2 separate regions of the Homo sapiens genome follow, and region 1 is linked to region 2. The links come from fine-mapping of genetic effects on gene expression. A gene starts in region 2. The other region holds a variant in brackets. All regions are shown on one strand. Distances are between the middles of the regions. Region 1 holds the start of LOC105371512 (a long non-coding RNA gene). Region 2 holds the start of SLC16A11 (solute carrier family 16 member 11).

Region 1 (5,368 bases), 88 kb before region 2:
ACTCCATAAAAAACCTTACACTCATTCTCCAAGCCCACATGTGATCCCATTCTTCCAGTACACCAAGGCAGGAACCCCAGGACACAGAAAGCCCTCTGTGCTTGTGATGAGGCAGAAGGTCTAATAGAGCTGATGAACACAAGCCGCCTACAGACGGCAAAACTGAAAGAGCCCCCGTCACACACGCCCACTGGGGCTTCAGGAGCTGTAAGCATTCACCCCCAGATGCTGCCGTGGGGTTGGAGCCCCACAAGCTGCCCGTCAGCAGGCTCCCCCTAGAGGTTTGAGCAGTGGGATTCTGAAAAAACGAGCTATTCCCGCTGTCACACGCCCTGCGACGGGGACAAGGGAACCTTTCCTGTTTCCGTTCCTGTTTCCAGTCCCCAGTGCCCTTGTGGTATTTCAAAAGCATGCATGTCGGCCGCGCACGGTGGCTCACGCCTGTAATCCTAGCACTTTGGGAGGCCAAGGCGGGCGGATTGCCTGAGCTCAGGAGTTGGAGACCAGCCTGGGCAACACGGTGAAACATCGTCTCTACTAAAATACAAAAAAAAAAAAAAAAAAAAAAAAAAAATTAGCCAGGCGTGGCGGCGAGCGCCTGTAGTCCCAGCGACTCGGGAGGCTGAGACAGGAGAATCGCTTGAACCTGGGAGGTGGAGGTTGCAGTGAGCCGAGATCGCGCCACTGCACTCCAGCCTGGCAACAGAGCCAGACTCCGTCTCCAAAAATAAAAATAAAAATAAAAATAATAAATAAATAAATAAATAAAATAGAAAGCATGCATGTCCTTTCAATGTAGAGTATCCACACCACAAAAAATCCTGGGTTACATGGATTTTATAAACCAGGCAGGGGGAACGAGGCCTCTAGCAACAAGACCACAACAAACATTGCAGATGCAGATAAATGCAGAACACGGTAGATTAGGGAGGCGTGATCCACTCCAGGGGCTTTCCGGGACTGATAGAACACTGCTTTACAAAACAAAGAGAAGCAGAGTTTAGAAACCTGCAGGGTGTCACTGCTCGCAGGAAACACCAGTCCTTATGAGCTGTTGCAAAAGCTGGGGACTTTCTGGTGTTTGAGCTGCTGATTTCATGGTTTTAAATGGGGCTTCTTGTACCTCACCCTGCCTTTCCAGTGCACCCAGTGGAGACGGAGGGACAGTGGCCCTGGGGGCCAATGACTTGAGAAGGAGACACAGATCTGAGGCCAGCATAGCCAGGGGTCAGGGGTCAGGGACCAGCTGGGCAGGAGCAGGGATGTGTCTTCAGGACAATGGGGCTCATGGGATTGGGGTCAATGTGTGTGAGTGTGTGTTCCTGCCTGGATTGTTTATTCAGCTTCTGCCCTGGCATCTCACCTTAGGGTCTAACAGGGACCTCAAACACAAACACCGTCTATCCCAAATTGAGCTCTTTTTAGTTCCTCTTTTTCTTTTCTTTTCTTTCTTTCTTTCTTTCTTTTTTTTTTTTTTTTTTGAGATGGAGTTTTGCTCTTGTTGCCCAGGCTAGAGTGCAATAACGTGATCTCAGCTCACTGCAACCTCCGCCTCCTGGGTTCAAGGGATTCTCCTGCCTCAGCCTCCCGAGTAACTGGGATTACGGGCACGTGCCACCACGCCCGGCTAATTTTATATTTTTAGTAGAGATGGAGTTTCACCATGTTGGCCAGGCTGGTCTCGAACTCCTGACCTCAAGTGATCTGCCTCCCTGGGCCTCCCAAAGTGCCGGGATTACAGGCATGACCCACCGCGCCCGGCCCTTTCAGTTCCTCTTTCTACATTGCGCGTTTAACCCATTCCTGCCCCCTCTTCCCGCTCAGTTAACCCTGCTGTCACTTTCTCAGCAGCATACAAAGCTTCTTCAGGAAGCCTTCCTTTCCTCGCCCACAGGCCCTCCCCAGCCAGTGCTGAGTTGATGGTTCTTCCTCCAAGATTCACTATCTACCCTTTTGTTTTTTGAGACGGAGACTTCGCTCTTGGCGCCCAGGCTGGAGTGCAGTGGTACAATCTTGGCTCACTGCAACCTCCGCCTCCCGGGTTCAAGCGATTCTCCTGCCTCAGCCTCCTGTGTAGCTGTGATTACAGGCGCCTGCCACCATGCCCAGCTAATTTTTTTTTTTTTTTGTATTTTTAGTAGAGATGGGGTTTCTCCATGTTGGCCAGGCTGGTCTTGAACTCCTGACCTCAGAGGATCCACCCACCTCAGCCTCCCAAAGTGCTGGGGTTACAGGCGTGAGCCACCGCACCCTGACATGATCTGCTTTTAATCTGACATCTTCTCACTGTTGTCACAGCCACCTCCAGTCCCAAACACCATCGTCATCTCTCTTTTGGGACTTTGGCAACAACATCCCCTGCCAACTCTCACCCCTAAAGGTTCATCCTCATACAGCAGCCTGAAGGTGACTTTAAAAAATGTAATCAGGCTATGTGTCGCCTTGTTTAACTCATCAATAATTCCCTATTTCACAGAGAAGAAAACTCTTCCGGCCTTCCATGCCCTGGAGGTCCCCGTGATCCAGCCCCTGCCTCCCTCTCTGGCCCCATCCTCTGCCTCCTCTGCTTTCACTCACTGGCCTGCTCCCTCTTCCCCAGCACATACCTGCTGTGTAATATGTGAGTGAATGAGCCAGAGACAGGCAGAGAGAGAGCCTGTGGAGGAGGGAAC[A/G]GCCGAAGTACGGAATGAGGCAGATAAACACAGGAAGACAGAGACCAGGGGAAGTGGAAACAGATGGCAGAGAGGCCAGGGAATTCTCTCGTGATTTGGGGAACCCCACTTTCTCCAGGGTCCCACCCCTTGTCTTTGTTAGAATTGGGCCTGGGACAGGCTGCTAGTGGGGTTGGGGCTGATGGAGGTGTGGGAGCCGGGAGCTGGGTTCAGGACTGAGTTCTGGACCAGGCTGGAGATGGGCCGGGGTAGGAACTGGGAATTCGTCCCTTCCCAGGAGTTGGCTCTCCTGGGCTCCGCATTTTTGTGATTGGGGGTGGGGAGGGGGGCTGTCTAGGAGGGTTGGTGTTTCCCCTTTCTCTCACATCTTTTTTGCTTCCTGCTTTTGAAGTTCCCCAAATTGTTGGTGTCTCCAAATTCCCAACCAGGAACTGATGCTTCTGCTCCCATCCGCCAGCCCGAGCTGCAGGAAGCTGGGGCCTTCCTCTGGGGCTCAGGTGCCAGGTTCTCCAGCCCGCCCATATTGACTCCTGTCATTCCCCAGGGGAGTAAATATAAGTCAAGCACCTGAAGCTCAGGGGGAGGGAAGCAGAGCTTTTTCTGCAGCAACTGGAGGAAGTTAAAATGAGTAAAGGAATTGATTTTCTTTTCTTTTTTCTTTTTTTTTTTTTTGAGATGGAGTCTTGCTCTGTTGCCAGGCTGGAGTGCAGTGGCACAATCTCGGCTCACTGCAACCTCCGCCTCCCGGGTTCAAGCGACTCTCCTGCCTCAGCCTCCCGAGTAGCTAGGATTACAAGCGCGCATCACCACACCCAGCTAATTTTTGTATTTTTAGTAGAGACGGGGTTTCACCACATTGGCCAGGATGGTCTTGATCTCCTGACCTCGTGATCCACCCACCTTGGCATCTCAAAGTGTTGGGATTACAGGCGTGAGCCACAGTGCCCAGCCAGTAATTGATTTTCTTTGAGTACCTACCATGAGAGTTAAGGAATTGATTTTCACTGAGCACCTACAATGTGAGGGCTTTGCTTATACAAAAAAAAAAAAAAAAAAAAAAAAGGCTCAGTGTTAGACACTTTGCCTTACATTAACCTGTTTAATACCAACAAGAACCGAGTGAGGCAGGTATTATTATACCCATTTCCAGCTGAAGAAACTGAATATCAGAAACCTTGAGTCACTTATCCAAGGTTCCCTTATGGCTGGTAAGTGGCAGAACCAGAATTCAAGATCACGTTTGATTCTGAAGGCCCTGCCTGGCTTCCCACAGGGAGTCACTTTTACATGCGTCTGACTCTTTTTTTTTTCTGGGTTGGTGCTGGGCTTGGACATTGAGTGGTGAGTAAGGTAGTTCCTGAGGTCAGGGAGCTGGCAGTCCAGACAGGGAGAGGGGCACAAAGCAGGAGCTGAGGCCATCAGTGCCTTCATGCAACACAGATTTATGGGGACAGACCAAGCACAGGTACCTTTCTAGGTGCTGGGGATTTAGGACTGAGTGAGCCTAAGTCTCCATGCCTGGCTGTATGTGCAGAAAGATAATAACCGAAATACATAACATTCATTATCAAATGGCGATGAGTGCTGTGGAGAAAAACAGAGCAAGGAGGAAAGAGGAGAGGGGTGTGGTGGGGGTGCACAGTCTCCTGATGTGGGGACACGGGTAGCCGGGGCATGAAGCCCACCCTCTTAGCCTCTGGGCCTCTCAGACTGGTGCCGGGGGCCTGTCCATGTTTGCCCTGTCCACTTGCCTGGTGAAAGGGGGGTCCGGGGTGGCGCTGCTGCAGGTGGTCTTGGCATGGGTGGGGCGCTGTCTCCGGTGGCCTGCCTTGGACCCTGCCATTTGGCATGTGGACCCTAAAGTCAAGGAGAGCTTTTCATGTTCATGCTGGTATTTGTGTACTGAATGAACTGTTTATCATTTTGTTTCCTTAAAGAAATTGTCAGTTTGTTAAAGTACATTTTAAATCTAATTTTTCCTTAAACTTCTTGTAAGTTCAGCTTATAAAAGTAGTTATTCTTTTTTTTTTCGAGACAGAGTCTCACTCTGTCACCCAGGCTGGAGTGCAATGGCATAACCTCAGCTCACTGCAACCTCCGCCTCCTGGGTTCAAGCGATTCTCCTGCCTCAGCCTTCAGAGTAGCTGGGACTACAGGCAAGTGCCACCACGCCAGGCTAACTTTTTGTATTTTTATTAGAGACTGGGTTTCACCATGTTGTCCAGGCTGGTCTCGAACTCCTGACCTCAGGGGATCCACCCATCTCGGCCTCCCAAAGTGCTGGGATTACAGGTGTGAGGCACCGTGCCTGGCCGTAATTATTCTTTTAATAAATTGTGCTAAATAAGAGCCACCGACTTTACCTTCTCACTGATTATTGCATAATAATGAAAGTCAAAGACACGAAACTCTCTTAAATAATCAGCTTCATTCACAATGCAGTTAAATGCCTAGAAACATTTTTAAACTGAGTTTACACATTTGGTGTATTTTAAGGATTTGATTTTAACAATCAAAAACTAAGTAAATAAGGCAAATTAATATTCATAAGGAATCTCAAGGACTCTTCAACATTCCAACATTGTTTACAAACCTAATCAAATTATTTCATACATTTCAACTGAAAAAGAAAGCACGAGTCTAAAATCAAGTACTTCATTTTGTATTTTAATTTGCTATCACAGGCTAATTTCAAA
Region 2 (5,368 bases):
AGATGGTTTGGAACGGTAACCTAGGTCTACCTTTGATTATTGTAAAAGACCTGTACAAATAGAGAAATGTAATTTTTCCCGTCTATAGGCAATGGAGAGCCATTGCCTATAGTCATGCTGTGTCTTTTATGTTTACAGTTTTGCTCCTTAAGAAGCTGTTTTTCTTGTCTTTACGTGCAGATTCTTTCCCAATAATTAGGAAACACTGCCATCATGTGGCTCAATGGATGCATGCTCCAAACTTAAGTTGCTGAATGTTCTATCATATTGTTTAATAATTAAACCAAAGAACACATCTCTGAATTCAAAGAGCTGAGGTAAAGAATGTCAACCTATCAAAAAAGGACATTTTCTATAAAGTTTTTCAAAAAATCAATACCTGGCTTCAATGACCTGATTTTTTACTTTGCTTTTAAAATTGTAACCTGGCCAGGCATGGTAGACTGTAATCCCAGCACTTTGGGAGTCCGAGGTGGAAGGATTGCTTAAGTCCAGGAGCTTGAGACCAGCCTGTGCAACATGCTGTGACCCCCTCTCTACAAAAAAAATGAACAAATTTAGCCAGGCATGGTGGTGTGGAGCCTGTAGTCCTCGCTACTCGGGAGGCTGAGGTGGAGTATTGCTTGAGCCTGGGAGGTGGAGGCTGCAGTGAGCCATAATGGCAGTACTACACTTCAGCCTGGACAAGACCCTGTCTCTATAAATAAATACACACACACATACATACATACATACATACATACATACATACATACATACATAATAAAAAATAAAATTCTAACCTAAGTGTTTAGAGATTCTGATCTCAAGAATCCTTTCTATTCCCAGTGACCCCTTATTTTAGACTCATAAGTTTTCTGTCCCTGCAATGGTTCCACCCTTTCCAGGGCAGTTTGCTTCAAGCTGTATCCAGGATCTTTCCCTTAACTGTGCCAGATTTTGTTTCAGTCCTGGGATTGTTCTCCTTGTAGGTCCACAGTTGGACAGACCTAAATTCAAATATCCATACCATTTTTTCCCTGAGAGCTTCAGTTACTGCATCTATAAAAGAGGCACGACATCGGCCAGGCGCGTTGGCTCACTCCTGTAATCCCAGCACTTTGGGAGGCCGAGGTGGGCGGATCATCTGAGGTCAGGAGTTCCAGACCAGCCTGGCCAACATGGCGAAACCCCATCTCTACTAAAAAATACAAAAATTAGCTGGGAGTGGTGGCAGGCGCCCGTAATCCCAGCTACTCAGGAGGCTGAGGCAGGAGAATGGCTTGAACTTAGGAGGCAGAGGTTGCAATGAGCCGAGATCTCGCCACTGTACTCCAGCCTGGGCTACAGAGTGAAACTCCATCTAAAAAAAAAAAAAAAGAAAAGCGACACCTTCTTCATAGGGTTATCATAAGATGAAGTGATAGCATGTGTAAACGGTGCCTGGTACACTGCAGGTCTTCACATTGAGGGAGTCGTGTTTCATCCCTCTGTCCTTGAGGACCTGTTATTTTATTTTATTTATTTTATTTTTGTTTATTTATTTATTTTTGAGACAGAGTCTTTCTCTGTCACCCAGGCTGGAGTGCAGTGGCATGATCTTGGCTCACTGCAACTTCTGCCTCCCGGGTTCAAGCGATTCCCCGCCTCAGCCTCCCAAGTAGCTGGGACTACAGGCGCCCGCCACCACACCCGGCTAATTTTTTTTGTATTTTTAGTAGATATGGTGTTTCGCCATGTTGGTCAGGCTGGCCTCGAACTCCTGACGTCAGGTGATTCACCCACATCGGCCTCCCAAAGTGCTGGGATTACAGGCTTGCACCGCGCCCGGCCTGGGGGTCTGTTATTCTAAGCACAGAGCTGGCACTTGGTGGAGGTCTGTGATCTGATTGATATCCGAGATTTACCTGGTCCTCGGCAACGTTCCTGAGAACAAAACTACTCATCCCCTCAGGTTTTGGGGACCATCCCTATTTCCACGCGTTGGCGGTGGACCCTGGGCTCGCTGGGGTTTGCAATCCACGTGTCTCCCCTGCGCGCAGCAGGCGGCAGGTGCATGCGTGTGAGTAGGGCAGGGCCCCTCTGCATTCATTTCTCGCCGCTCCCCCCTCCCCCGGGCCTGGGGGTTGTGTGTGTACATAATTCAATCCCCGTGGGACTGGCGTCTGGCCTCACGCGCGGCTTGCCGGATTGGCTGTTTCAGCTCGCCCCCGCCCTCCGTACACCCCGCGTCCCAGGTGGCTCAGGCCCCTGTGGTGATCTCTGTTTACCGAGAGAGCCCGTCCAAGTTGGGCTCCATCGCTGCCCTCGCTCCCCTTCGGGGCCCCCGCCCGCCTGGGAAGCAGAGAGAAAGCCGGGCCCAGCCCTTCCTCACCCTTCCCCTCCCCGCACCGCCCGGAGAGGTCGGGTAAGGGGGAAGGAGTGTGCGTGGGACGGGGAACCTCGGGCCTGGGGATCTGGCTGTCCCCGTCCCCGTACCTCGCGCGGACCCGGGAGTTCCAGCCCTAGGCCAGGCTCCGGCTCCCTCCGCCCCGCGCCATCGCGCTCGGAGTGACGGGCCCACCCCGGGCGAGCAGCCAGAGGCTGGATCTCAGGGATGCCAGCTCCCCAGCGGAAGCACAGGCGTGGAGGCTTCTCTCACAGATGTTTCCCCACCCCGCAGACGGCGATGACCCCCCAGCCCGCCGGACCCCCGGATGGGGGCTGGGGCTGGGTGGTGGCGGCCGCAGCCTTCGCGATAAACGGGCTGTCCTACGGGCTGCTGCGCTCGCTGGGCCTTGCCTTCCCTGACCTTGCCGAGCACTTTGACCGAAGCGCCCAGGACACTGCGTGGATCAGCGCCCTGGCCCTGGCCGTGCAGCAGGCAGCCAGTGAGGGGGGCCCTGAGGCGGGAGACAGGAACGGGGAGGAGGAGCCGTGAGTGGAGGGATGGGAGACCCACCTGATTACCCGACAACCTGAGAAAGGGCAACCGGCTCTAGAAAAGAGTGCATCTTGAGGTCAAGGAGAAGAACCATTAGTTCGAGGGAGGCAAACAGCCAATGAGAAGTGTTGGAGAGAGTTTGGGGGCCCGGGGGCGTGTCTTCCGTTGACTCCGCCCCCTTTCAGGCCCCGTGGGCAGCGCCCTGAGCACGCGCTGGGGGGCCCGCCCCGTGGTGATGGTTGGGGGCGTCCTCGCCTCGCTGGGCTTCGTCTTCTCGGCTTTCGCCAGCGATCTGCTGCATCTCTACCTCGGCCTGGGCCTCCTCGCTGGTGAGGGAAGTGGGATGCCCGGGTCATTCAGGGTGAAGGAGGTGACAGGAGCTTGTTGGGATCTGGGGTAGCGAACGAGGCGGGGGCCTGGTGCGGAGAGCCGGGCTGGGAATGCTGGGGCGGGCGTCCCCAGTGCCGGCCCCCATCCCCTCCTATTCATTCGCAGGCTTTGGTTGGGCCCTGGTGTTCGCCCCCGCCCTAGGCACCCTCTCGCGTTACTTCTCCCGCCGTCGAGTCTTGGCGGTGGGGCTGGCGCTCACCGGCAACGGGGCCTCCTCGCTGCTCCTGGCGCCCGCCTTGCAGCTTCTTCTCGATACTTTCGGCTGGCGGGGCGCTCTGCTCCTCCTCGGCGCGATCACCCTCCACCTCACCCCCTGTGGCGCCCTGCTGCTACCCCTGGTCCTTCCTGGAGACCCCCCAGCCCCACCGCGTAGTCCCCTAGCTGCCCTCGGCCTGAGTCTGTTCACACGCCGGGCCTTCTCAATCTTTGCTCTAGGCACAGCCCTGGTTGGGGGCGGGTACTTCGTTCCTTACGTGCACTTGGCTCCCCACGCTTTAGACCGGGGCCTGGGGGGATACGGAGCAGCGCTGGTGGTGGCCGTGGCTGCGATGGGGGATGCGGGCGCCCGGCTGGTCTGCGGGTGGCTGGCAGACCAAGGCTGGGTGCCCCTCCCGCGGCTGCTGGCCGTATTCGGGGCTCTGACTGGGCTGGGGCTGTGGGTGGTGGGGCTGGTGCCCGTGGTGGGCGGCGAAGAGAGCTGGGGGGGTCCCCTGCTGGCCGCGGCTGTGGCCTATGGGCTGAGCGCGGGGAGTTACGCCCCGCTGGTTTTCGGTGTACTCCCCGGGCTGGTGGGCGTCGGAGGTGTGGTGCAGGCCACAGGGCTGGTGATGATGCTGATGAGCCTCGGGGGGCTCCTGGGCCCTCCCCTGTCAGGTAAGGACCTGAGCTCACAGATCTGCCTACAACTATCCTCTGCCCCTGGGGTTCGAGGCTTCTAAATGCCCTTACCCATCTCCTCAGGCTTCCTAAGGGATGAGACAGGAGACTTCACCGCCTCTTTCCTCCTGTCTGGTTCTTTGATCCTCTCCGGCAGCTTCATCTACATAGGGTTGCCCAGGGCGCTGCCCTCCTGTGGTCCAGCCTCCCCTCCAGCCACGCCTCCCCCAGAGACGGGGGAGCTGCTTCCCGCTCCCCAGGCAGTCTTGCTGTCCCCAGGAGGCCCTGGCTCCACTCTGGACACCACTTGTTGATTATTTTCTTGTTTGAGCCCCTCCCCCAATAAAGAATTTTTATCGGGTTTTCCTGAAACCTCCAACTGTTCACCAATCTAGGACCCTGAAAATATTCTACATAAGACAGCCAGAAAGGCTGGTTCAAAGGAACAGGATCCCAGAAGGCCCTGGGTATGAAGAAGGGTGACTGTCCAGCCAATCCATTTCTCTTTGCCCAAGTCCTGGCCGTAACAGGGAATCTTTGCGAAGTTGTCTGGCAGCCAGTTTCAGTGTGTTGCTGGGGTTGGGGGCGGGTTGCTAGTGGGTGCTATCTGCCCCATCTTCATGTCCCTTACCCTAGTTCCCAGACCTCCCAGACTTAACTCTTCCCTGCATTTCAATCTCCTTCTATGGGCCTGAGGGAAATACAAGAATCCTAGGCCCAGACTTCAGCTCTATCAAAGCTATTCACACATCTATACCCTGTGTCCTCAGCATTCTCTCAATTTCTTTTCTTTCCTTCTTTTTTTTTTTTTTTTTTTTTTTGAGACAGAGTCTCCCTCTGTTGCCCAGGCTGGAGTGCAGTGGCGCGATCTTGGCTCACAGCAACCTCCGCCTCCTGGGTTCAAGCAGTTCTCCTGCCTCAGCCTTCCCAGTAGCTGCAACTACAGGCACACGCCAACACACCCGGCTAATTTTTGTATTTTTAGGAGAGACGGGGTTTCACCATCTTGGCCAGGCTGGTCTCAAACTCCCGACCTCGTGATCCACCCGCCTCGGCCTCCCAAAGTGTTGGGATTACAGACGTGAGCCACCATGCCCAGCCCTCAATTTCTTTTCTAAGCCACAGGGATAATGGGGAAGAGGGAGGTATGTGGTGGTAGCCTGGAGAGCAGATTCCAGGGTTAAAATGCCTTGGGTCATC

The links. PIP is the estimated chance that this variant, and not a neighbour inherited with it, causes the effect.
Region 1: its variant is the best candidate, but not a certain one, in a credible set for the expression of SLC16A11 in whole blood (INTERVAL, PIP 0.65).

What each region holds. Positions count from the first base shown.
Region 1 is chr17:7,128,567-7,133,934 of GRCh38, reverse strand. It overlaps LOC105371512 (a long non-coding RNA gene), which reads right to left and starts at 2,688. Exons shown (of 3, transcript XR_934191.3): 1 at 2,607-2,688. RefSeq lists enhancers at 200-309, 2,440-2,977. The variant A/G (reference allele first, on the strand shown) is at 2,673.
Region 2 is chr17:7,040,793-7,046,160 of GRCh38, reverse strand. SLC16A11 (solute carrier family 16 member 11) reads left to right here and starts at 2,069. Exons shown (of 5, transcript NM_001370549.1): 1 at 2,069-2,386; 2 at 2,642-2,849; 3 at 3,088-3,231; 4 at 3,398-4,165; 5 at 4,253-4,540. The coding sequence starts at 2,648. The coding sequence ends at 4,482. It overlaps LOC124903909 (a long non-coding RNA gene), which reads right to left and starts at 3,094. Exons shown (of 2, transcript XR_007065598.1): 1 at 2,921-3,094. RefSeq lists silencers at 2,463-2,592, 2,663-2,722, 3,623-4,012, 4,123-4,192.